Linked DNA regions of Homo sapiens: region 1 is linked to region 2. The links come from fine-mapping of genetic effects on gene expression. Tissue or cell type: lung. Region 2 holds a variant in brackets; the other region holds the start of a gene. All regions are shown on one strand. Distances are from middle to middle.

What was found. PIP is the estimated chance that this variant, and not a neighbour inherited with it, causes the effect.
Region 1: ARAP2 starts here. The variant in region 2 is fine-mapped to the expression of ARAP2 in lung (TOPMed, PIP above 0.99).

The regions. Positions count from the first base shown.
Region 1 is chr4:36,238,172-36,250,709 of GRCh38, reverse strand. ARAP2 (ArfGAP with RhoGAP domain, ankyrin repeat and PH domain 2) reads left to right here and starts at 6,196. Exons shown (of 33, transcript NM_015230.4): 1 at 6,196-6,531. It overlaps LOC439933 (a long non-coding RNA gene), which reads right to left and starts at 6,594. Exons shown (of 5, transcript NR_122079.1): 1 at 6,499-6,594; 2 at 5,400-5,538; 3 at 2,104-2,228. RefSeq lists a silencer at 5,821-6,400.
Region 2 is chr4:36,265,426-36,277,963 of GRCh38, reverse strand. LOC439933 (a long non-coding RNA gene) reads right to left here. Exons shown (of 5, transcript NR_122079.1): 4 at 4,916-5,017; 5 at 3,749-4,729. Among named protein-coding and RNA genes, the nearest start is that of DTHD1, 9.9 kb to the left of the region's middle. The variant T/C (reference allele first, on the strand shown) is at 7,746.

The sequences.
Region 1 (12,538 bases), 27 kb after region 2:
AATTTTTGGTCAATGATTGAATTGACTGAATAGTTTTCACTGCTCCTTTGTCTAGGGTAACCTGCAGTGCCATCTCACTGAACTGCTCTCTTGCCTCAAGAAAGAATGAATAAAACTTTCAAAGTAACTCATAGCTTGTAACAAGGAACTGAAAGCAGTCAACATAATGAATATAAACATTTCAAACTTGATAAAAACAAACATTTACCTAAAGCTCTAGGTTGGGTACTTCAGGGAATACAAATAGTAATAAAAATATTCCAGGCTGGGCACAGTGGCTCACGCCTGTAATCCTAACACTTTGGGAGGTCGAGGCAGGAGAATCACTTGAGGTCAGGAGTTTGAGACCAGCCTGGCTTACATGGTGAAACCCTATCTCTACTAAAAATACAAAAATTGGCTGGGCGTGGTGGCAGGCACCTGTAATCCCAACTACTGGGGAGGCTGAGGCAGGAGAATCACTTGAACCCGGGGGGCAGAGGTTGCAGTGAGCTGAGATCACACCATTATACTCTAGCCTGGACGACAAGAGCGAAACTCTGTCTCAAAAAATAAAATAAAATAAAATAAAATAAAATAATAAAAATAAATAAATAAATAAATAAAGTATTCCAAGTATGCATAATGCAAGACTGACTGACAAGAGTACTCAATAGAGATTTTTTAAAAAAAGGGCAGTAGGAGAATCAGGAGAGAGTATTATAAATTCCTAAATATAAGGTACATCATTTCCCCCAAATAAATAGTGTCTCAGAACAAAAGGTCCTTATTATCAAAATGTTAAAAAGCTTTCTCTGAGGCATCACAGCATAATACTTAATGCATGTACTTTGAATTCACATTATCTCAATGCCTGATTACCTTATTTACTACTCGTGAGTTCTTGGATAACCTTTCAGTTTCATCATTGGCTAAAAGGGAGATACTGATATTACTTACCTCCTAGCCCTGCTGAGAGAATTTACAAAGCTAATAATGTGTCACAATGCCTGGTACAAAAATATATGTGTCATAATTTATTTATTATTTCTATATTTCCTCCCATTATTGTACATTAATCTGAATGGCAAACTACTAAACTCCTGAGGTTGAAGAGGTATCTGCACTCCCATGTTTACTGCAGCACGGGTCACAATATCTAAGATATGGAATCAACTTGTGACTATCAGTGAATCAATGGATTAAAAAACATGTGGCATGTATACACAACAGAATACTATTCAGCCTTAAAAAAGAGGAAAATCATATCATTTGTGACAATGTAAATGAACCTAGTGGGAATTATGTTAAGTGAAATAAACAAGGCAGAGAAAGACAAATATTGTGTTATCTCACTTACACATGTAATCTAAAAAAGCTGAATTTATAGGAGAGTGGAATGGTACTTAGCGGGCTGGGAAAGGGGGGAGTTGGGGTGATACTGGCGAAAGGATACAAAATTTTGGTTAGATAGAAGAAATAAGTTCAAGAGATCTAGCACACAATATGGCGATTAAAGTTAATAACAATGTACTGTATTCTTAAAAATCCCTGAGAAAGTAGATTTTAAGTGTTCTTACCACAAAAAAAAAAAAAAGAATGCAAGGTAGAGCATATGTTAACTATCTAGTTTTAGCCATTCTACAATGTAAACATATTCAAAACATGTTGTCCATTATAAATATATACATTTTTGTCAATTAAAACTTTAAAAAAGAATTTACCTTTTTCCAGGCCAAAAAGAAAGCTTGTATCTAAAGCAGAGAATAAGCTACTGAACAAATAAATATAAGAGGATGTGATGAAAAACGTCTTAGCCAAAGCTCCCCCAGAAAATACAGCCTGAGGCAAAAACCTATATGTGAACTCTTTACTGGGGAGTGGATCCCTGGGAGCAGGGCTGAAGGATAGGGCTGAGATGGTATACAGAAAAGCAACAAAAAATATATATCAGAAATATGCCTGTAGTGGCCAGGTTCGGTGGCTCATGCCTGTAATCCAGCACTTTGGGAGGTCCAGGTGGGCGAATCACTTGAGGCCAGGGGTTTGAGACCAGCTTGGTCAACATGGAGAAACCCCGTCTCTACTAAAAATACAAAATTAGCCAGGCATGGCAGTGCATACCTGTAATCCCAGCTACTCAGGAGGCTGAGGCAGGAGAATCACTTGAATCCAGGAGGTGAAGGTTGCAGAGAGCCGAGATTGCACTACTACATTCCAGCCTGGGTGACAGAGTGATGAGACTATGTCTCAAAAAAAAAAAAAAAGGAAAAAAGAAAAAAATCAGCCCATAGTGATGAAGTCGTTGAATGTTAAAATTTGAAAATGTGAATTAAATATTTCATAAAATATAAGTGGAAATAACAGTATAGTTTAAAATATAATTTTACTTCTATAGATATTCATCTAAATTGATGAATTAAATAAGTAGACATTTGCTTATTTTATCTATATACCTAATTTTCATATTTGGCAAAAGCAATACTGGATTTTCTTTTAGAAAAAAAAAAAGGAAAGATTATTTTAAATCCTGTTGTGTACATATTTCCGAGTATCAGAGATTTTGAAAGTCTTGAGAAGGAGGTAGGATTTGAATCAAATCTTGAAGAATAATTTGAGAAGATAAACTAAAAGTAAATGCATTGAGGGGTTACTATTTTTTTAGGTGCTGTAGATATATAATCATATTAAATTCTCATAGGTATTATTATTCTCAGTTTACATATGGGGAAACTGAGGCTCAGGTAAGTTAATGAATTTGCTTAAAAAAATGCCGCAACCTATACTGGTTCCATCTTGAATGCAGCCTTTTCCAAGCCTTCTACTTTCTTCAAGACACAATACAGTGCAGAATAGATCCTGGAGAAGACTGGGTTGGAATTCTCCCTCCCGTACAGTCCTAATTGTTTGATTTGTGTAAAGCATTCAATTTTTCTGTCTCTTAAGTTTTCTTATAAAGGAGATAACATCTCTCCAAGGAACTGCTGAGATACTTAAATGAGCTCTTGTAATTAAAATGCCTGGAACAGCAATTGGCACACAGTGCTCAATGGGTATTAGCCATCATGTTGTAAGAAAAAGTAGAAGGAGGAAAAGGAGGGAGAGAGGAGAGAGTGAGGAGGAGGAGGAGAGGAGGAAGATTTTCACTCTCTCAAATTGTCTCCTCGACAAGTAAAGCAACAAGAGATCACAATAGTAAATACATAGATAGGCACAGACACATCTTTACCTGCTTTTTTACTAAAAATCTGGGAAAAATGTGCAGGAGCTCGTCATTGTGGAATCATTTCAGCCTAGATGAAAATTACTGGGAATATATGTTCCAATGGTCTTGAGATTAAACATATTTTCTTACCTTTTTTTTTTTTTTTTTTGGAGGGGAGGGGATGGAGTTTCAGTCTCATTGTCCAGGCTGGAGTCTGGAGTGCAATGGTGCAATCTCGGCTCACTGCAACCTCCACCTCCCAGGTTCAAGCGATTCTCCTGCCTCAGCCTCCTGAGTAGCTGGGATTACAGGCATGCACCACCATGTCCAGCTAATTTTTTTGTATTTTTAGTAGAGATGGGGTTTCGCCATGTTGGCCAGGCTGGTCTCGAACTCCAGACCTCAGGTTATCTGCCCGCCTCTGCCTCCCAAAGTGCTGAGATTACAGGCCTGAGCCACTGTGCCTGGCCCATACCTTAATCCTTGTAAAGCCAATTTCCCTGTGTACTTTGCTCTCTGAATACCTCACTGTGAAGGTTGCAAAATAAAAAATTTATACCCTAAGAATATAGCCTAAATGTATTCAATGTATTCACTATTTACTACTTAACCTCTTTAAGTTTCAATTAAACCTATATTTATAAAATTGAAAAAAGAATTTTAACTCACACACGTTGTGTATACACAGCATATATGTTAGGTATTTGACTAGAGTCTGGTGACTATCGATCAATTAATAAAAGATAGCTTTTGCCGTATTTCCTCAGACATTTTTATTTTCCTCCATATATTAAGATTCATTAAACCAGAATACATCTTATAACTAATGTATACATTCAATAAGTGAGCATTGTTCTTCTTTATTTCCCAGGGCTATTATGAAGTCATTGTTGTACCTTGTAGCATTTACCTTTATTTCCCCTCAGAAAACATAAATCCAGAGATTGCATTGTATTTGCTAAACACTGTATTTTCAAAATGCCAAACAGTGATTAATAATTTTTAAAGAATAAATGACTGAATAATAATCAAAGAACTAAGATATTTTTGCGAAGAGGGAGAGAGACAATTTCTCAATTAGTTTATAAAATCTACCAAGCGAAGTAACTTGAGGACAAAGCAATGATTGAACCTCCCACACATAAGATAACTGATCTAATAATTTTTATTTATAACCCACCTTGTTTAGAGAAGGACCGAAGATGGCTTACAATGATAAAAATAGAGCCAGGCATGGTGGCTCACGCCTGTAATCTCAGCACTTCTGGAGGCCAACGCAGGCGAATCACTTGAGGCCATGAGTTTCAGACCACCCTGGCCAACATGGTGAAACCCTGCCTCTACTAAAAACACGAAAATTAGCTAGGCGTGGTGGTGCATGCCTGTAATCCCAGCTACTCAGGAGGCTGAGGCGGGAGAATGGCTTGAACCCAGGAGGCGGAGGCTGCAGTGAGCTGAGATCGCGCCACTGCTCTCCACGCTCCAGCCTGGGCGATACAGCGGGGCTCAGTCGAAAACAAAAACAAAAACAAAAAAGAGAGAGATAAAAAAAAAGAGAGAAGTATGTGAGAATTTGGAGAGGGAAAAGGGAAAAAGAACAAAAGAAACACACACACACAGAGAATGAAGCCAGAAAAGAGCCACATAAATAAAATTCCTCCTATAAATGCTATAGGAATCCAGAGAAAAAGTTCCCGTGGTTTGGAAAATGTCAATAAAACTTTCCTGGTGGAAATGAGGTCGGCTATGAGGTATTAAGTTCAAAAGGAACTGGATATTTGGTGTCTCTAGTAAGACAGAGCTGCTTCAGAGTCTCCCCAGGGAAAGACGGTGCTTTGGGCAGGTAGTTAGTGTGGGTGAAGGTGATGACTGAAGAATCCTAAGGGCCCAGGCTTGTGGGAAGCCTCTCTCTTTCCGCACTTCACCAATTATCTCATTTTCATAAGGTCTGCGCTTTCCTTAATTGCTTCACTTCCATCAACAGGAACAGGGGAAAGATAAATACATTTCACCTTTTAATGAAGAGAATTTCAGGTAGTCTGTGGGAGATGTTTATAAAAAAAAAAAAAAAAGCTGGTAGGGGGCAGTGTCTCACGCCTGTAATCCCAGCACTTTGGGAGGCCGAGGCAGGTGGATCACTTGAGGTCAGGAGTTTGAGACCAGCCTGGGCAACAAGGCGAAACTCCGTCTATACCAAAAATACAAAAAAAATTACCTTGGCTGATGGTGCGCGCCTGTAATCCCAGCTACCTGGGAGGCTGACGTGGGAGGATAGCTTGGACCCAGAGGCGGAGGCGCAATGAGCTGAGATTGCCTCACTACACTCCAGCCTGGGTGACAAAGTGAGACCCTGTCTAAAAAAAAAAAAAAAAAGTAGTTGGTCTGTGAACTCACTTGCAAATAACTGGATTTTACGGACGCTTAGATATTTGGAGGTCCACAAGGGTTCTTTGGGATCCCCTATTTTCCTTCGCTGCCTCCTTTGTCAGAGTCCAACTCAAAGGGGAAATGCCCCTCTGGGATCTAACCGCCACAGGTGCAAGAAGGAGCAAATTTACATAGAAGCAGCCTGGGGAAAATAGTGCCCTAGATGAGTCTTCAGTTTGGGAAACGCTGAGCTAACACTTTAAGTACTTGGAAGAGTAATACTAATAATCAGTCGTGGCGAGGTTCCGCCCATTTGACATTCAACCCCCCATGAGTGCGCACAGACAAACCCACTGGCCAGGAGGAGCCAACACAAGGTCCTGGGCATCTCCGTCCCGGGAAGGTGGGTAATGCCCCTGTCGCTCTGGGCTCCAGGGCGCGCCCCCGCAGCTTCCCCAGCGGGGTCTGACGCCTCCGGGCCGAGGTGCGCCAGGTGGCGAGGGTGCCAGGCGCGGCCAAGTCGCGGCGGTCTGAGTCAGTCACCCAACTATGCTGCGGAACCAGGGAGGCCGGCTGGGCCGCCCCCGCCGTTGAGCTCCGGCTTCCCCCGCGCGGGGCGCCTGCTCCCCGCCCCCGCGGGCGGAGAGGAAGCGGCGGCCGAGGCGAGGCGCGGGAGCACCTGAGCAAGGCGCGGGCGCCGGGCTCGGCGTTTCCGGAGCTGAGCGCGGGTCCGCGGCCCGCGCTCCCCGCCTCCAGGTGCGGCGGCCGCGACACGCCGGCCCCACTAACAGCGCCGCCCGCGCGGCCGCCGCCAGGCAGCAGAGGCGACTGCGGACAGCCGGCGGGGACCGGGAAAGAGGAGGCCTGGCGCCTCCGGCAGAGGGGCGAGGACCGAGCGCCCAAGGCTGGGAGAGACGCCGGCGCTGAGCTTCCCAGCGCCGCCTCACCTCGCTTTTCGAACTCCGCGACCCGAGCGCAAGGCGAGTACCCGGGGCCTCGGGAAGGCTGGGCCGGGATGGCCCACGCGGGGGTGGGAGGACCCTGTCTGGAGGGGCTGGGGCTTTTCGACACTTCACCGGGTAAATTTCCTCAGCGCAAAGTGCTCGGCTCTGGTGTCCGCCCCTTGGATTTCGCTCCCGCGTGTGGGCGTCTGAAAGGAAACCAGAAGCCGGTAAGTGATCCAAGAACTCCACTTCTGGGATTTGACCCGGGAGGGTGAGGATCCGGATAGACAGCTGGACACTCCCTCCATTCCTCTCCCCTACCTTTAAATAAGAAGAAGCTGTAGTGAGTTTCAGGCACCAAGTTATTTACTCGGTAGAGATCATGAATTTGCCCGGGTGTCTGTGCTGCCCCGCACCCTGCTTGTTAACCACGTTAAGACGACTGGCCTGTTAATTAACTTTAATTACGATCATTTGGCTTCCACCTGCCTGAACCCGATACCTTACACGGGAACCTGTATGATGTGAGTTTACCAGATTGATCTTTCTTGTTTACTTTTGGAGACAGTTCTCTTGGGAGAAGTGGTGTCCATCCTATTTAATAAAGTAAGTTTTACTTTATCTAATTCTGGCTTGTTTTCTTAAACACCTCCTACCTTGAGGTGATCTGGAGTTATTTTGATTTGGGGAAAGGGTTCGTGGATTATATAGCCTTTGATAATTAGAGGAAAACACAAGAAAATAAGCTAATTTGTGTGGAATAATGACATCTTAGGGTGTTGTAAGTAGGTATCCTGATAGCAAATTCTTTTTTTTTTTTTTTTTTTTTTTGCAAGCTTGTCCTTGAAGTAGGCTGTTCAGTAGAATACAGCCTTCGGTTTAAAAAAAATCAAGAAGTGTATTGAAAATAAGCTATTTTTAAAAGTACATTTAATAGGATGTCATTGTTATTACTCATAATAGTATTGTACTTACAAGCTCAGTATTGATTTATCTGCACTTAAGCACTCTACACCCCCACAGGCCCATGGAACTTTGCCCGTAAGTAATTGGAAGATAAAAAGCAAGCTAACTTTTTTTAAGGAAAAAAAGAGAAATACCTTTAAACTCTTTTTTTTTTAACTCTTATTTATGACTTCCATACACTTACAGGAGAAATATTGAGAGAAAATACTCATGACATTTTTTGTCCAACAACGTTTAAAGAAGAAAAAAAAGTGGGTCATGGAACTAGGCTAGGGTTAAGTGCAAATATCTTCCTGGCTTCTTTCTAAACATATTTAACACATACACATTTAAGGTGGTTCCTAACACGAAGAGGGTTTTATATAGATTTGTCAGTACTCAAAGATTTATTTGAATTAAAATGTACCTAGAGGGTAAGTGAGAGAGCTTGTTAAAACGTATTTATATGGGTGTGTGCTTGTGTTTGTATTTTTTCCTTCGTCTGTAAACCTGTCAGATTTTATGTGGCTTGTCTGTAAAAGGAGAAGCTGATGGTACGTTTAAAAACAAATTCTTGTTTTTCTAATATCACTGCAAGCTCCTTGCAGTGTAAGGCTCATGGATATGCAATAATATCAGATCCAACTATTCTTGGATACTGTGGAGAAGTATAGAACTCAGATTATAATGAATTACAGTTTTCTTAAGAACTTTAACGCATTGAAACTATGAAGTTTTAAAGTCTACGTAGAATTCTGGGTTATAGACTTCATGATATATGAGAAGTTTTTTGTTGTTGTTGTTGTTTCGTTTTGTTACTTTCTAACCCACCTCCCTGCAACTGTGAGAAAGTTTGGTGAAAGTGACTATAAAAATGCTAAGTATAAATAATAGTCATTGCTTTAATAGTTTTCTTTTAGCATACATTTCCACCTGTCCTCATTTATTTATTGATACATTTCTTGGATACAATCTTTGCACATGCTACATTGTAAGAGTTTTGGGAATTCTTGGTGAAATATTAATTAGGTAGAGAACTTCTTAATAATCTGGGAAATATGTCTTAGCTTTGACCACATATGGTGGATGTGAGATTAGAGGCTATGAGACGCTGTCTTAATCTTTTCTGCAAAGTTCTGGACCTTGTAATTTATCATTTTAGTTATTACTTGTAAGTATTGGCCAGATTAAATATATAATGGTAGTTAAACCATTTTGCTCACTTGTTTCTTCTTTAAATGAAGCAGTACTTAATGGTATTCTCCTCACGTGATCTTTTCTAGTTAGAAAGTTGTCCTGTGAAATTTTGTTTCAGTTTCTGTTCAGCACAAGCTTACTTATTTACCCATGCTGCAGAGAAAACAAAGGAGGCCTGATTTGGGTTGAAGCAGTGGTTTAGGTGGCAGATTTGAGATTTTTTAGAGTTCCTGAGAACTCATGAAGGATGATGGGGCCACTTCTCCATGTATTTAAAACAATACTAAAATATAAAACCATGTGGAAATTAGGGTCATAAAATTGGATTTTTCTCACCATTACAATTTAAGTGTTTTTTTTGGAATATATCAAATTCTTTGCAAAAAGTTGTTTTTTTGTGGTGTCTTTGGTATTGTTTATTGGCACTTACTGAGTAATAATGAACTGATTGTTCATATACGTGCCATTTACCTTTTCTTATAGTCATGTCTCATCTACCCTTTTAGATTGTAAACTCTTGGAGGGAAGACTGTATCTTCACTTTCTTTGTAGCCCTTAGCACTGTTGTCAAATGAGACAGTAGAGGCTGTTATCTTGAACACCAAATATCTCCCTCTCTTATCTTGGAGCGAGTAGTGTTGCTTAATATATATTGAATGAATACATGTTAAAAAATGGTCCAGTAAGGTAGGAGACGTTTTCTGAAATGCCCTCTTTTTATAAGAAAAAGAAACTTTGACAATTGCTAAACCAATAGGAATAAACCCTCAAACTCAGTTGGAAAAGAGGTCAGAGTACTATTTATAAATGCAAAGAGAGGAAACACAGTAGGCTATTCTGAAACATCTGGTTGTTTGTCTAAAAATATGACTTACATTCAGAGAAATGGTGGAGTATATACACTTATACAAAAGTTTTAAAATTCTGCTTTTGTAGAAACTCTAGAAGAATAAATTATTCTCTGATATCCCAAGAATTATGGCTTTACCTTAGGGATCTCTCTACATTAGAATTTTTAAAAATTCTCAAATCTTAGTGAATTAACTTAAAATCTGGATGGACAGCTTGAAAGGAAAAGACTTACAGAAGCTAAGGAGATTATCAAGCATTTAACTATTGCGATATTATCCAGAACACCTAAACCTAGGTACCTCCTATGCTACTAATATGTTCTTATACTAAGTAAAGGAATTTGTACTTGTGGCCTTCACTGGATGGAAATTGTTTTTAAGTTTTAGGTTTTTTTATTGTGTTTTTCAGATTGTGCTATAAGTAAAATAATCAAAACATAGCTTAGACAATCCTTACTCCTTGATCAAAGCTATGAAATGATTTTGCCCAGAGCCTACCTATTTTCAGCTAAAATTTCCATTATTCTCCATCCAGAAGACACTAATTAAATGCTTGTTGCTTACCAGGCACTGTTCTAAGATTTTAATGCATATGCGCTCATTTCATCCTCAAAATATCCCCGTGAGGTAGGCACTATTATTTTCCCTGCTTACAAATGACAACAGTGAGGCTCAGGAAAAGAGAGGAATTCTCCCAAGGCCACACAGGTAGCACATGGCAGAGCTGGAATCCCTGGTAAATCACTGTGCTTTGTGTCCCAGGTGTTAAGTCTTCAGGTGAAATTATCATCATTCTTACAACTCTAACTACATGTATACGTTACTACATTAATAAAACTATGTTAACTGCTGTGTTAGGTGCATTGTGGGTTTATTAGAAGAATGATTTACAGTGATAATTTAAAGGAATGTAATACTACTATGCAGACCGAAGAATTCCATTCAAACCAAGTGCAATATAGTGGTATGAATATGATTAAAGGCAATATTGTATACAATGGGTGAATTAATATTAGCCAACGTTTATGGTGCAGTTGTAACTCATGTCAGGTATTCTTATATATCTTAAATTTTTACTTGTTTAATTCTAATAGAAATACTATACGATATAGGGTATATTACCCTCATTTTATAAATGAGAAAAACAAGCTTCAGGGAAGTTAAATAACTTAAGTTACATAGTTAAAAAGTGGGGAAGCCTGGACTGGAATTCGGGCATTGTGCTATCTATACTACTGCCTGGGTGGAACTAATAAGGGATTGAGGAGGGATGGGATAGGCAGGGAAGCCTCACGAATGTGGTGTTACCATACTTGTAAGACTTGAATTGGCTCCCAAAGGAGAGAAAAAAAGTCCAGGTATGTACAGGGAGTTCCATTTGAATAAGAGCTGAGAGACTGGCCCAAATCTTCTAGTCTGTTTTCTGATCTCCTTTTTTACTGGGTAAAAATAACACATACTATAAAATTTACCGTCTTATCATTTTAAAGTGTATAGTTCAGTAACGCTAAGTATATTTACAATGCTGTGAAACAGATCTCCAGACCATTTCCAGTTGGTAGAACTGAAACTCTATGCTTGTTAAACAACTCCTTACCTCTCTTCTCCTCTCTGGTAATCATGGTTCTACTTTCTATGAATTTGACTACGGTAGATACCTTATGTAAGTGGAATCATGTATTTGTCTGTTTTATGACTGTTTTTTCACTTAGCATAATGACCTTCAAGGTTCATCTGTATTGTAGCATGTGACAGTATTTATTCCTTTTTAAGGCTGCTTAGTATTTCATTTTGTGTATATACCACACTTTATTTATCCATTCATCCATTCATCCATTCATAGATATCTGGGTTGCTTCCACTCCTTATCTACTTTTGCACCACATTTGAAGTTAAACCTTTAAGATCATAGTCAGGTATCTTTTTTGTGTTAATACTTTCTCTTCTTTTTTTTTTTGAGACAGCATCTTTCTCTGTCCCTGTAGTGGCGTGATATTGGCTCACTGCAACCTCCGCCCACTGGGTTCAAGCGATTCTCATGTCTCAACCTCCTAAGTAGCTGGGATTACAGGTGTGTGCCACCATGCCCTGCTAATTTTTGTGTTTTTAGTAGAGACGGGATTTCACCATGTTGGCCAGGCTGGTCTCAAACTCCTGACCTCAGGTGATCCACCCACCTTGGCCTCCCAAAGTGTATGGGGATTACAGGCGTGAGCCACCATGCCTGGCCTTAACACTTTATTTTCTCGTCAAGCACATTTGTTTTTGTTTTTGTTTTTGTTTTTTACCATAACCATTGACTTCATGTGGGCAGTGAATACTTATTTTGGTCATATTTGATTATTTGATTTTGGCTTCATATTGTTGCATTATATCAATTGTACTATAGTCCTGTGTTAGCTGTCTTTCTGCAGTGATAGATGCAAAATAAATTTTAATAGACTAAATTCTACATTACCATTGCTTTATATAGCAATTACAAAGATGTTCTCCCTTAATTTGTCATTGGCTCTCAACTCTCAGGCAATTAAATGTAAATGAATGTAGGCTTCCAGGTTTAGCCACGTACATGGACACATATCAAACTTAAATGGTGTATAAAACTTGAATTTGCAAGATATGGTATATTTAAACAGCATTTCCCTAGTGTGAATATAAGCCCTTATGAACAGCTAGACAAAGGAGAGGGAGACTATTAAGTCTTTGCTACCTCTTTACTATTAAATCAATTTTATATCTACTATGAGGCTTTACAGTTTATAGCACAGGTTGTGGAGTCTGACTCTTAGAAACACTTAAGTTAGTGTTTCCACTGTTTATCTATTGCGTGACATTCAGCGTCGGATTTTCCTCCTCTGCAGCTGTGAGGAGTAAATGAGGTCCTACAAAAATGGTTTGCAAACATCCACAACTACTGGTTATTATTATTATCAATGTCATTCTGAGGGAGAATGAAAGAAGATGGATGTGTTTTGGTGGGTGGGAAAGAAGTAGTGGTTGAGGTAGAGAACAGGGTACAGAGGAGGTCAGAGCCTGTGAGTGACCACAAT
Region 2 (12,538 bases):
AACCTAGGCACCCAGACAGTGGAAAACAGGTGAGTTCTTGTCACAGAATCTCAGAAGTTCCCGGAATAAGAGAAAGTTAGGACCTCTGAAAGTAAAGATGAACTTAGGGCTGTAAACAGGTGTTTTTGCTGAAACTCTGTTTGGAGAGCAGGTAGATTCCCAGATACCTCGCTTCTGCCCCAAAGAACCAGGCAACAATCTCTCTCCCACACATCAGAAGCTAGAGACTTTCTCTATGAATAAATCGTGGCAGCAACACTCAGCAGAGCAGAGAACTGGAGGGGGTGCTATGCTGACCATGAGGGTTAAGTGAAATTCTATTATGAGGTGCTGCTCTATTCTTCTGCTCAACTCCAAGAACACGAGCTGGGAAGCATAACCTTCCAGGCAGAAAATGGAAAGTTTCCTCCATGGAGTAACTGAACACTCCATGAGAAAAACCTACTGATAGTGAAACTTTCAGTGTCCCTCTCCCTATTTCCAACCCCACAAGCCTGGTCTGCCCCCGCCAGATCATCCACAGTGAAGCTCTGCATCATATAAAGCTTCCAAACTAGGCTCTTCATGCCTCACTTTAAGTGGAATAACAACCAACGAGGTCAGGCATTTGAAAAAGCCTCTAATATAAAGCTAGAGACTAAAGTAAACAAACAAAAATAAAGAACTTGGGAAAAAAAACAAGAGAACAAACACAGGGAAGAGGAAAATATCAAATCAATCTATAATTAGCATGTTCAGAGTCTAGGATAAGAAGAAATAATGCACTCACAAGACAAGAAAATATTTTCTTTTTTTTTTTTTGAGACAGAGTCTCACTCTGTTGCCCAGGCTGGAGAGCAGTGTTGCAATCTCAGCTCACTGCAACCTCCGTCTCCCAGGTTCATGCCATTCTCCTGCCTCAGCCTCCTGAGTAGCTGGGACTACAGGCGCCTGCCACCACGCCCGGCTAATTTTTTGTATTTTTAGTAGAGACGGGGTTTCACTGTGTTAGCCAGGATGGTCTTGAACTCCTGACCTCGTGATCAGCCTGCCTCGGCCTCCCAAAGTGCTGGGATTACAGGCGTGAGCCACCAAGCCAGGCCGAAAATATTTTCTTTAAAAGGGGAGCATTCTGGCAATGAGAAAGGACTCACAGAAATTAAATTATGATAATAGAATTTTCTTAATATGGGAAAGAAAAAGCGGTTGAGTAAATTCCCAAAAACATCAAACAAAAAGACAAAGAGATGGACAATAGGGGTAAAATGGAGGTTAAGAAAATTAAAGGTTAAATCCAAGTGGTCCCACTAATATGAGTTCTGGAAAGAGAAAGTAGAATGAATGAAATTATCAAAGAAATAATATCGAAATATTTCTCAGAATTAAAGTATATGATATTCTAGACAGAAAGAGCCCAGAACAGTATATACAAAAAATAATCATAACCAGTCATATCAAATTCACACCAAGGATCAACATTCCAGTAGCCTCCAAAGAGGGAAAAAACTGTCACATTTAAATCAAAAGGCATTGAACTTCTCAACAGCAACACTAAGACCTAGCAAATAATGAGTTGTGATTTCAATATTCTGAGGGAAGCCTCTTTCCAATCCAGGATTCTGTTGCCAAATGCCAAATGCCAAAGCATCATTCAGGTGTGCCGAGAAAGAAAGGGCATTTCGAGTATGCAAATGTCAAACTACTTATCTCCTGTGTACCCATTTTTGGGAAGCTACTCACAGATGAACTCTATCACAAGAAACAGAATGACACAAGAAAAACGCAGACATACGAGTCAGGAAATGGAAAATCCAGCAAAAGAGAGAGAGCTAAATCAAATGCTTTAGATGAAGTCCCAGGGTGACAGCAATGCTGTGGCCCTAGAAAGCCCCCATTCCAGACTGCAGCAGTCACCTGAGTGTTTCAGAAGTCTGTCTGCAAGCAGAAAAAATGGAACTCATGAATTAGCTGATGTTTTAAACATTTTAAGAGAAGTTTTACAATTCTATTAGAGAATTGAGGAAAAGAATTGTTGATAATTTAGCAACAGAAACAAAAGACAATTATTAAAACTGGGAAAAACTAAATTGTAAAGAAAAGGATATATAATTATAGTGTATTGCATAGTTCTGTTATGAATAATATTTATACAGCCACGGTAATAAAGACGTTTATAATTACTTTAAAATAAAAATTGTGGGCTGGGCGCGGTGGCTCACGCCTGTAATCCCAGCACTTTGGGAGGCTGAGGCGGGCGGATCACGAGGTCAGGAGATCGAGACCGTCCTGGCTAACACGGTGAAACCCTGCCTCTACTAAAAACACAAAAACTTAGCCGGGTGTGGTGGTGAGCACCTGTAGTCCCAGCTACTTGGGAGGCTGAGGCAGGAGAATGGTGTGAACCCAGGAGGCAGAGATTGCAGTGAGCCGAGGTCGCGCCACTGCACTCCATCCAGCCTGGGCGACAGAGTGAGACTCTGTCTCAAAAAAAAAATAAATAAAAATAAAATAAAAATTCTGATACATGTGTATTATTAGGACGAGTATAGGAGGTATGTACATAGCAAATGTGTATAGCAGGGTGGATACAAGAGAGCAAAAAGTCTTATTTCTATAGCAGGAAGTCAAATATTTAAAAATAAATCAAACATTTAAAAACAAAGAAAAACTATTAGGAATCTGGAGGTAAGTGCCAGAAGAAACTTCTAAAAGGTTTAATGTGATTGCCTCTGGGAAAAGACATGGGAAAGAACAAAGCAACTTCTGACTTCCAGGAGCTAGCCTGGCACTACCAGCAAAGCCTTGGGGTTGCTACCAGCTGTCCTGGTACTCACAGCTAGGTGTTAGTATTCTGTTGAACATTAAAAAAAAAATTAACATGACATCAGCACTATGATGGATCAAAACAAATTGAAAATCACTCTACAATCATGTCTAAACACATGAGCATTGTTCAAGCCACAAAATACGAAACATTCCCCTCTCTCAGCTAATACGAATGAGGACTGCTTCTTAACAATTGCATCTTTAGCATTACTCTAGTCTGCCCTCTCTAAGGATAAGACTTATCGAGATACCCAATCACAGATTATAACCACTTTTAGAGAGCATCCAATTCAGAGCGGGAAACTTCCGTCGAGTCACCCAACCAAAGCCCAAATCCTGTTATAAGTCCCTTTTAACATCCTTCACCTGAGACACCCCAGGATTCTCTGTGGTGTGAGTTTTCCCTCACTGAAATGGGTAGTGAGTCCTGCTTATTCAATTATAGGTGTGCTCCTGACGGCCTTATGCTGGAGGACAATGACAGATGCTCAGGTACTTGGGGAGGAAGAAGAGCAACCTGCAAGGATCTGTTGCTTTTCTTTCAAGTTGTTGTCATACTATATGATTTTTTTAAACTATGTGTATTATATTACTTTGATATAAACTAAATTCACATGTTAAAAATGAAATAAGCCAAATGTTGCATTCCCTAGGGATCATTTGATGGTGATATTAAGGTTGACACAGCGCATCACTTCAAGTGGGTTACTTCAGATCGGCTAACATACACTCCGTTGAGTTTGTAAGAAGTAATTCACCATTTGAAAATGCTTGGAATTTGGTGGCACATGCTCAAGAATGAACTCAAATTTAAAGCAACAAATGGGCTGGGCATGAACTTCAAACAGAGGTAGAGTAACTACCACCTGGTAATGGCTTAATATCTCATACTTCATCCCGATCACAGAGCTCTAGATACAGCAGAAGGTCAACAAATGTTTGATGATTAAGAAAATGTTGAAATGTAATAAACAATCCACACATTATTTTAAGAATATCATCATATCATTCCCCCACCTAGAAAATAATTAATAAAATTCCTTAATATCACAAAAATGTGGTCAGGTTCAAATTTCCAATTGTCTCTTAAAAGTCACAATTATTTTTACACAATTTTTAAGAATTAGGCTCCAAATAAGGTCCTAAAGGCAACTAACTCCCTTTTAATAATTCTCATATGAATTATGAAAACTGAAAAATGTATTTGAAAAAACATATACCAACAATGGAGAAATTTAATTATAGGCTGGAAAATTATCTTTCATTTTTGTCATTTTTATGTGGATGAGGAACAGACGTAAGGGAATTAATTCGAAAGAAGTCACCAAATTTGAAAAGTCAATAGACATATTTGCAGAGATATTTTCATTCCTTTGTGTTTAAGTAAATTCTTTACCATTCCATTAAAGTAGTTACTGATTTTGACATGTTTTGTTTTACATAGAAGTTTAGTATGAAAGTTCTTACTGGCAAGTTCTGCATTCACTATGTAAAGAAAATGGCTTGTTTTGGTGTCAAGAACTGAACTAGAACTGAAAAGTAATTACGAGTATTCAATTATTTGGTTAACAAAAGCGCCTTCTTAACACCATTAATGGCCTCTGAAATCAACATCAGTGTTTTCGATTACAGCTTTGCAACATGTCGCTGTGAGTCATTGTTGTGTTTGTAAAGATTATGACTCTTTATACAGTCATGGGCCTGTGACATGAAACCAGTGAAATAAATTTTCATGAAACCAATGAAATAAAAACCAGACAATTTTATCTTCTGTCAAAATCTTCTGAGACAAATGTTCAAATGAGGGTGTGCCAATGCATTGCTACAGTATACTTTATGGTATCATAGTATTTGGGATGTGTTTCTGTGCCATCTTCATTGCTTGACTTCTACCAGGATGTGAATAGTGATTTGAGAAGTAGTTCTGAAAAAGACAAAGAGGAAACACATGAATGAAAAAGAGTTTTTTAAAAAGAAGACAAAGAAAAGGTCTCATATGTGTTGACACTAACATATTCCTCCCAAATCACTTCCAGGTTCTCTGTTTTACTTCTGGACAATCATAACAAAATTCATCAATTAAACATGACTGTCCTATTCTACATCTTACCTCCATAAAAAGTCCCTTCTACATGCACTCCATGACATCTCTTAGAGACGTCATACACTCATCCCTTTGAATGTTGAATTGTCAGCAGAAATATCCCTCGCACTGTAAAAATAAATTTGCAAGAATCAAATTATTCAGCATAAACTCAACCCTCAACATCAAGAAAACTCTATCTTGAAGTAGGGAAATGATGCAAAAGAATGCCTAATTTGTTGCTTTTTAGAAATATTTGAGCTCTTCCAGCTAAATTTCTATGAGCTGAGAATACCTCAGGACCCCATAGTGTTCATCATTACTAAAAGGATGACATTGTATACAATGAGCCTCCAAGAATATTTGTTTCTCAGAAAAATGAATATATATATATTATAAATGGACAACATTAAGCTATTTAGGAGTATAACTATTTCCCCTCTTAGACTGTTGCTATCTTGACACATTTGACCTTATGCTATCAACTATCTTACATTATTTATATCCACTATAGGCATTAACCATGTCCAATATCAGAAGAGAAAATGTTATCAATCTTCTTTTTTACTTTACTTCCCCTCATCACTGTTCTTATCACCAGGTTCAGGGACATTCTAGAACCTCAGCAAGTGGCAATAGGTGGGAGGAACAGCCATGGCCGGCCCTAGGCTAGCATGTTTATTATGAAATTATCACCGACATCTCCTTTCTGGCCATGTTTCCCATCCATCTACCCCTTTCAGCGTATCTTCCAAGTTACCCTTTATCTCTTGCTGCCTTGTGTCATCTGTCAAAAATCACCCAAATAAACCCACTTGCATTAGAGTCTTGGCAGGTGTTGATTCTCCTCAGCAGCATTATTTGATTTTTTTTTTTGACACAGTCTCGCTGTGTCACCCAGGTTGGAGTGCAGTGGCACAATCTTGGCTCACTGCAACCTCTTCTTCTGGGGTTCAAGCGATTCTCATGCCTCAGCCACCAGAGTAGCTGGGACTACAGGGACACAACACCACCCATGGCTAATTTTGTAATTTTAGTAAAAAGGGGGTTTCGCCATGTTGGCCAGGCCAGTCTCAAACTCCTGGACTCAAATTATCCACCCACCTCGGCATCCCAAAATGCCAAGAGCCACCGTGCCAGGCCCTATTTGAATTTTTAAAGAATGAACCTGTAATAATAAAATCTGAAGCTTCTATGGGATGCCTTTCCAGGTGCATCTCAGCCTATGTGTTAGGTCTGTATGTGAAATGATATCATTAGAAGCATGTTGTTTTCAGCATTGTCAGAAATACATAACTACTAACTAGTTCATTTCTTAATTCAGAATTAGCTGTAACATTCCAAGGAAGCTGCATTTGATTTTTAAAAATTTATTTTACCTCCTTGTGATAAAAATGAGAGCAATGGTGAATTAATTTCTATCCTAGTGGAGAAGTCATTTTTGTTAGACAGAGTCTATCCAAGATTGTGCTACTGTTTAAAGATGTTATTGCAGTTACTGGCAGACCCAGATAACAGCTCCGATGTAATCCCAGATTCCCATATTGAATTAAATCTGATTTGGGTTATTTAGGTCACATATTGAAGAAATGCCCTCTCCGTGTCATTTCTCTGTAAATAGTGGGTGTCCTTTGGTTTTCTCTATAATATACATTTATTTTTGGAGCTCATTAAACAGGTTAGGTAACTTAAATAGGTCTAGTCAGTAGACAGGAGTTAAAGCTGAGGATAGAGAAACTCTCTGTGGTATTATCTAACACACAAGATGAGGGTTGTTCTTAATTCTTGGCTCTTACCTACAAAAGCACTGAGAGAGCCATTTGAAAATAAGGTCTTAAAATCAGATCCATATTTGAAATGGAAAAAAAAAGACATCACCTTTTATATTTGTGTTTCTTAGGAATATTAATTTTGTTTTAAAAGCAAAAACTTTAATAGACAGTGGATGTTATAAGAGCCATTTTGTCCAGGTGGGGGTGAGAGTAAGGAAATTCGAGCTTAAATAGTATAATACAATTTGTTTTCCCCATCTCTCTTCTCATAACTGCTTTTGTTGCAAATACATAGTTGCAATTGCTTCTTAATCTTAAATCAGTCTGTATTTTTGAAAGTCTAGAATAAACTGGGTGCTTAGGAGTTAATGATCTCATTATACTTCAGTAATGGTGCCATATGAATTCATGTGATTATACAGGATAGTACAATAAAGTCAGAACCTCTGGTGGGAAGTGGCTTCCTTGTGTCTTGAGGGACTTAATTCCTCAGTGTCTCAATTATGTCCTAAGAAGGACCGATGGTACTAGGAAATATATGCCAGAATGTTCAGTACTAGAGGACTTCTCTTATTTCAAATGTACAAGAGTAATAATATATTCACTCATGAGAGAAACTGGTGCCTCTGTTTGGGTTCTTTTAAAAATCACAATTTCATTCATTAAATTTTCAAAATGTTAAAGATAGCTTAGAATAGTAAAAAGGAGTAATTTCTAAAAAACTGATGATTACTAATTCAATATCTGGAAGTACAAGGAGCCCTTGGATTGTATTTTATGAAATAAGCTGTAAGATTTTAAGATATGGATTGTTAACATATTCAAAATAGTCTTATTAAAAAACTCTAGATTTTTTTTTAAAAAACAGACTTTCAAATATTTTACTGTACTTCACTTGGTCTCATTTCAGCAATAAGATCTAAACTTAATACCTGGAGAATAATCTCAACATTCTTAAGGACCCAGAAAGTGGAGTACTTCAAAGATAGCATGGGACATGCCATAAATTAAACAAACAACAACAACAAACGCAAGAAAATATCTTCAGTATGCTTTTTGAGAAGAGGTAATTCATACGAGGACTA[T/C]TTATGAGTAAATCAGGGTGTTATGATGACTTTTTAATGAAAGTTGGAATTCTTATTCTGGTCCAAAGAGATAGCCATGTGTTTGAATGACCTTGAAGACTGTTATTTTGAACCATTACGTAATCCAGCAGCTGTGGCAATGCCCTTTTCTGAGATACACAAACAAAGAAGCAAAATAGAATAGACAAGTGAATTCTTGAGAAAGTTTGCACATCGCCATGTAGCTATGTGTGTAGAGTGTCAGCCTCCATACAATGTTAACTGTTTCCAAGTGATAGTGGTGATGCCCAACCTGCAGTTTAGCTGTGAGATTTGGGCCAGTAATTGATGTTACAGCCCATTTAGGGACGACTTTAATTAACATCACCTGTGAGCCATGAATAGCGCAAACAGCAAGTCAAGATCATCAACAGTCATCCACTGTAGGGAACCAAATGTATTACCAAATCTCTGCTGGCTAAAAATGAGGACTGCTGACCTGTATAACTACATATTACAGAGAATAAGAGCCCTAAAGTGAGTCATTTGTCCATCAGCCAATATAGATTGTGTTTATTGTATACTAAGCATTGTTCTAATCTTGGAGGTGGCTTAAATAGTTTTTCTCTCTGTGGATCTTAAACATCTAGCTGGAGTGACTAAACTTGCGTTTGATAAAGATCAAAGAAAACTAAAAATGTACATTCAAAAGAGCAAATTAGCAATGTATTAAACAAGATTTTTAAAGAATGCATGAAATAGACAAGAAAGCAATAGAGAGAAACACAACCAACAGATGTCAAATATCAAAAACTTGAGACATCCTCAAATGCAACTTCAAACTGTTGCATAGACCTCGATTTGTGGAAAGAACGGGGGAATCACAGATGAACCAATAGTGTAGCAGTCAGAAGAACTTCACAGTGAAACCAGCCCCAGTGATGTAGCCACAGCTGTGAAGCTGTTTCCCTCTGTCATCTTGTTATACCAAGCACATCTTGTTTCCATGGGGACAAGAATTCGGAAGCAGCCATATCTTGAACTTAAAAGAAAGAAAGAAGGGTCTTCTGGGTTATATACCAATTTATTATTAATGACGAGACATTCTTCTGCTCAGTCCTTGAATTTCTCATGCTGGTGGATTTAGTTTAATTTGGTTGATCCAGAGAAGACTTTGTGGATGTGAGTTTGAATGAAAATGTACAGTGTTTTTTTTTTTGTTTTTTTTTTTTTTTTTCTGGCCTACAATGTGTAAGCCATGAAAGAAACAGTTTTACTCCTGCCTGCTCCTTCTCTAGGTGTTCCTGGGATTTTTACCTCTGCTGTATATTACTTGCTAATGCAACTTTTCCCCTATGTTTACTCTCAAATGACTTTCTTGGATACAAAAAGGAGAAAACATAGTAGTATATATTATCAGATAATTACTTCTAGCCCCTTTCAGCCGAATCTTGAGATTGGAAGTTTGGATCCCTTACAAGTCTTCAGAAAAGTCTTTTATGCTGTGGCTGATTGCATTAACTACACAAGATACAGTTTCCTTTGAGGTTTTGAAAGATACATTTTTTGGAGAGCCTCAATACTGAGGTAAAATATAGCTTATAGCACTTCATAAGATCAGGCTGAAAGGACTTCTCACAAGTAGACAATTCTATTTCAATATTTTTGAAGAAAACAAGAGCAACCACCATAAACAGCTAAACAAAACACCAGAAATATAACAAATATCAGTGGCATCTAAGTATACATATAGAGTTATACACACATTCTATCATAAATTCCATGTCTTATGGAGAAATAAAATTCATCCATTTTGGTGAATGCTAATAACTCCCACTTTAGACACTAAGCTTATCAAGATAACATAAAAGCATGTTTATTTACCAGATGTTTGCTAAGCATCTACTATGTGCTTTCACATTTGTGTGCCTACTCTTCTAGGCACTGAGAAGAAAAGTTTCATTTCTCAGGCAGCTGAAATTAAAGTATGTATCTTACGTCATGTTTGTGTAGGTTAGCCTACATGGCACAGCTAGCTAGCTAACTATGTTAGTTGGACTTAAATAAACACATTTCTATTGCTATGTAATCTGCCCATATCATATAATTTTGTTTGGAGATCAAATTAATGCTACAGGTAAATAAATACTCAACCTGTTGCAGCATGCAAAGACTATCTGATATTTCACAACAAAGTTAATGCCAAGGTCCTTCAGATGGTATTGCTCTATCATGACTGCTAGAATGAAGTAATTGGTAACAGCTATGCTTGAAACAAAGCAAATTGCTGTATTTCTAAATAGTTACTGAGTCTATTCTTTGTTGTTGTCAAGCTTAGAATCTTTTTTGCACAATATATACCAAAACAGTATGTTTTTAAGCTGGTTATATAATAGTTTCACAGAGCTACTATAATGACTAAGAAATTGTAGATGCTTTTGTTTCATTTTTTCTCCCAAAATGAATTAGCTCTTTTGACTGGTTAAGGATCCATTTTCATGACGTCAGACCACTGAATGGAATTTTGAGTTCTTAGAACTTCAAAAGCTTCATTATCTGATGTAACATTCAAATCTAATTTGAAAGGAAATGCTTCATTACAGTCCATGTCCTCAGCATGTCTTTGTAAAGAGAAAAGAGTTAGGAAACTTCCTCTTGCATAGTCACCTCTTAATGTCATTCTTGAATGTGTTCTCCTATGATAATTAGATGTTTAAATATTGAAATAGAATAAGTTTAAATTCAGAAGAAATCATACAATTCCAGAGCTAAAAATGATCCCTTAGGTCTTCCTAGTCCAACCCTCATACTTTATGAATGGAGATACCGAGGGAAGAGCTAGCTGGCTCTCATGATACTACAGAACCAGATCTGTAACCAATCAGCTTCGTGTTCCAGTGCTGCTACCTGACACAGGTTAAACAAAAAGATCCATTCCTTTAAATAAAAAGCATGAGATGTAAATTCGCATGCTTGCTTGAATTGAAACTATTAAATTTTTCACAACTCCCTTCAGTATTCTTTCTTTTTTTGTTCTTTTTTTTAGAGATGAGGGTCTTGCTTTGTTGCCCTGGCTGGAGTGCAGTGACACAATCATACTTCACTGCTGCCTCAAATTCCTAGGCTCAAGTGATCTACCCGCCTCAGCCTCTTAAAATCCTGAGATTACATTCTTGAGCCACACCACCTGGCCTGTTTATTTCTAAAACTTCATCAGTGATTTTTAATCATGGTTTGGGCATAGTAAACATTGATATATACGTACATGTATAATTTATTTAAAATTTTATAGCCTACTTATTTCCATCCCCTCTAAAAAATCCAACTATTTAAGCTTACCTAAAATAAACTCACAAACAATATAAGTACTACTAATAAAGTTTTACAAATAAAAAATTATACAGGGAAAAGAGAAAAAGAATTACTAGGAAAGTGGAAACATCATTCTTAAGCATTGACCTTCACACTGAGTTTCCTGGCCATCAAGGCAATGGCAGAATAAAGTCTTAGTCCCATTTTTAGATGAAAGGAGGTATAAAACATTTCTGCCAGGGAGAGAAAAGGGGAGGTAGCTGGGAAAGGCTTGGTTTGAACTTGGTTGAAGAATAAAAAGAGGGAAGGAAGAAATGAAGGAAAGGGAAGGAAGGAAGGAAGGGAGGGAGGGAAGGAGGGAGGGAGGGAGGAATGAAGGAAGGAAATTTGAATGGGAGCATTTTAGATGGACCCTGCAGTTTTAAGGAGTGATCAACCTAGCCATCCGGGAGGTATCAGGTACTGAATTACAGATGATTTTAGCATCTAGATCTTTATGTAAAGGATTATTAATATAATGAACAAGGTCTCCAAAAGAGGCTTTGAAAAAGCATCAATATTTCTTTCTGGTTCTTATATTGAATCCAGTGAAAGCATTTGAAAATTAAACTGTCTTCCTGGGAACTAATTTTCTTTTAGGCAATAGAGTACTAACTTAGCATATTCTTGATCATCTCAATGGAAGCTGAAATAGAAGATAAAGCAATGGAAGAAAGGAAGATGAGCTTATCCTTTATAGTCTTATTCAAATATTAGATCAACTATGCTTTGGGCCAGAATAAGTGTCAGTCCATTCAATGTTGCATTATATACAGTGAGGTGAAGCGTATCTTCACCTACTCGGATTTCCTGGAACTTGGAAAACTTGCTATATTTTCTCAGATACTCTTTCAGAGATAACTTCACTCTAGACAAAAGACTAGTGGAAGTGAGTGAGAACATAGGCATGGAACAGGTAAATTTCCATGGATGTTCATCCGTGTGGTCTCAGGACAACTGGATTTTCCCATTCTAAGTACACTTTCCAGACATAGCCTGGCTTCTGTTAGGGAAGGAAGGGTATGTGAACTATGAGTGTAAACTCTATATAAAGAAACTCTTATCTTGAAACTCTATGTGGTGAAAAAAAAGGTCTAGAATTAGCACCCAGGCAGTTTTGTTGGTCTAATCAAATTATAGAGGTCAATTTTTCTAAATTAATTATTTGTTTATTAACTTTCCTTTTTTTCCCTCTTTGGTTCTAGACCTTATTTTCTTAGTGTGCTAACATTTTTCTTTCGCAGTTGTGTTCATCCATGTCATCCAAGAAGCAAATAGCTGTACCAGATTAAACATGTAAGAAATTTATTAAGGGAACTGCCAGAGAGAGAAAAGGGGTGGGAGCTGGGAAAGGCTTGGTCTGACCTTGGTTAAAAAAGAAAAACAGGAAAGGAAGGAATAAAGGAAAGAAGGAAGGAAGCAAGGAAGGAAGTTAATTTTGGTGGAATCATTTTAAATGGGTC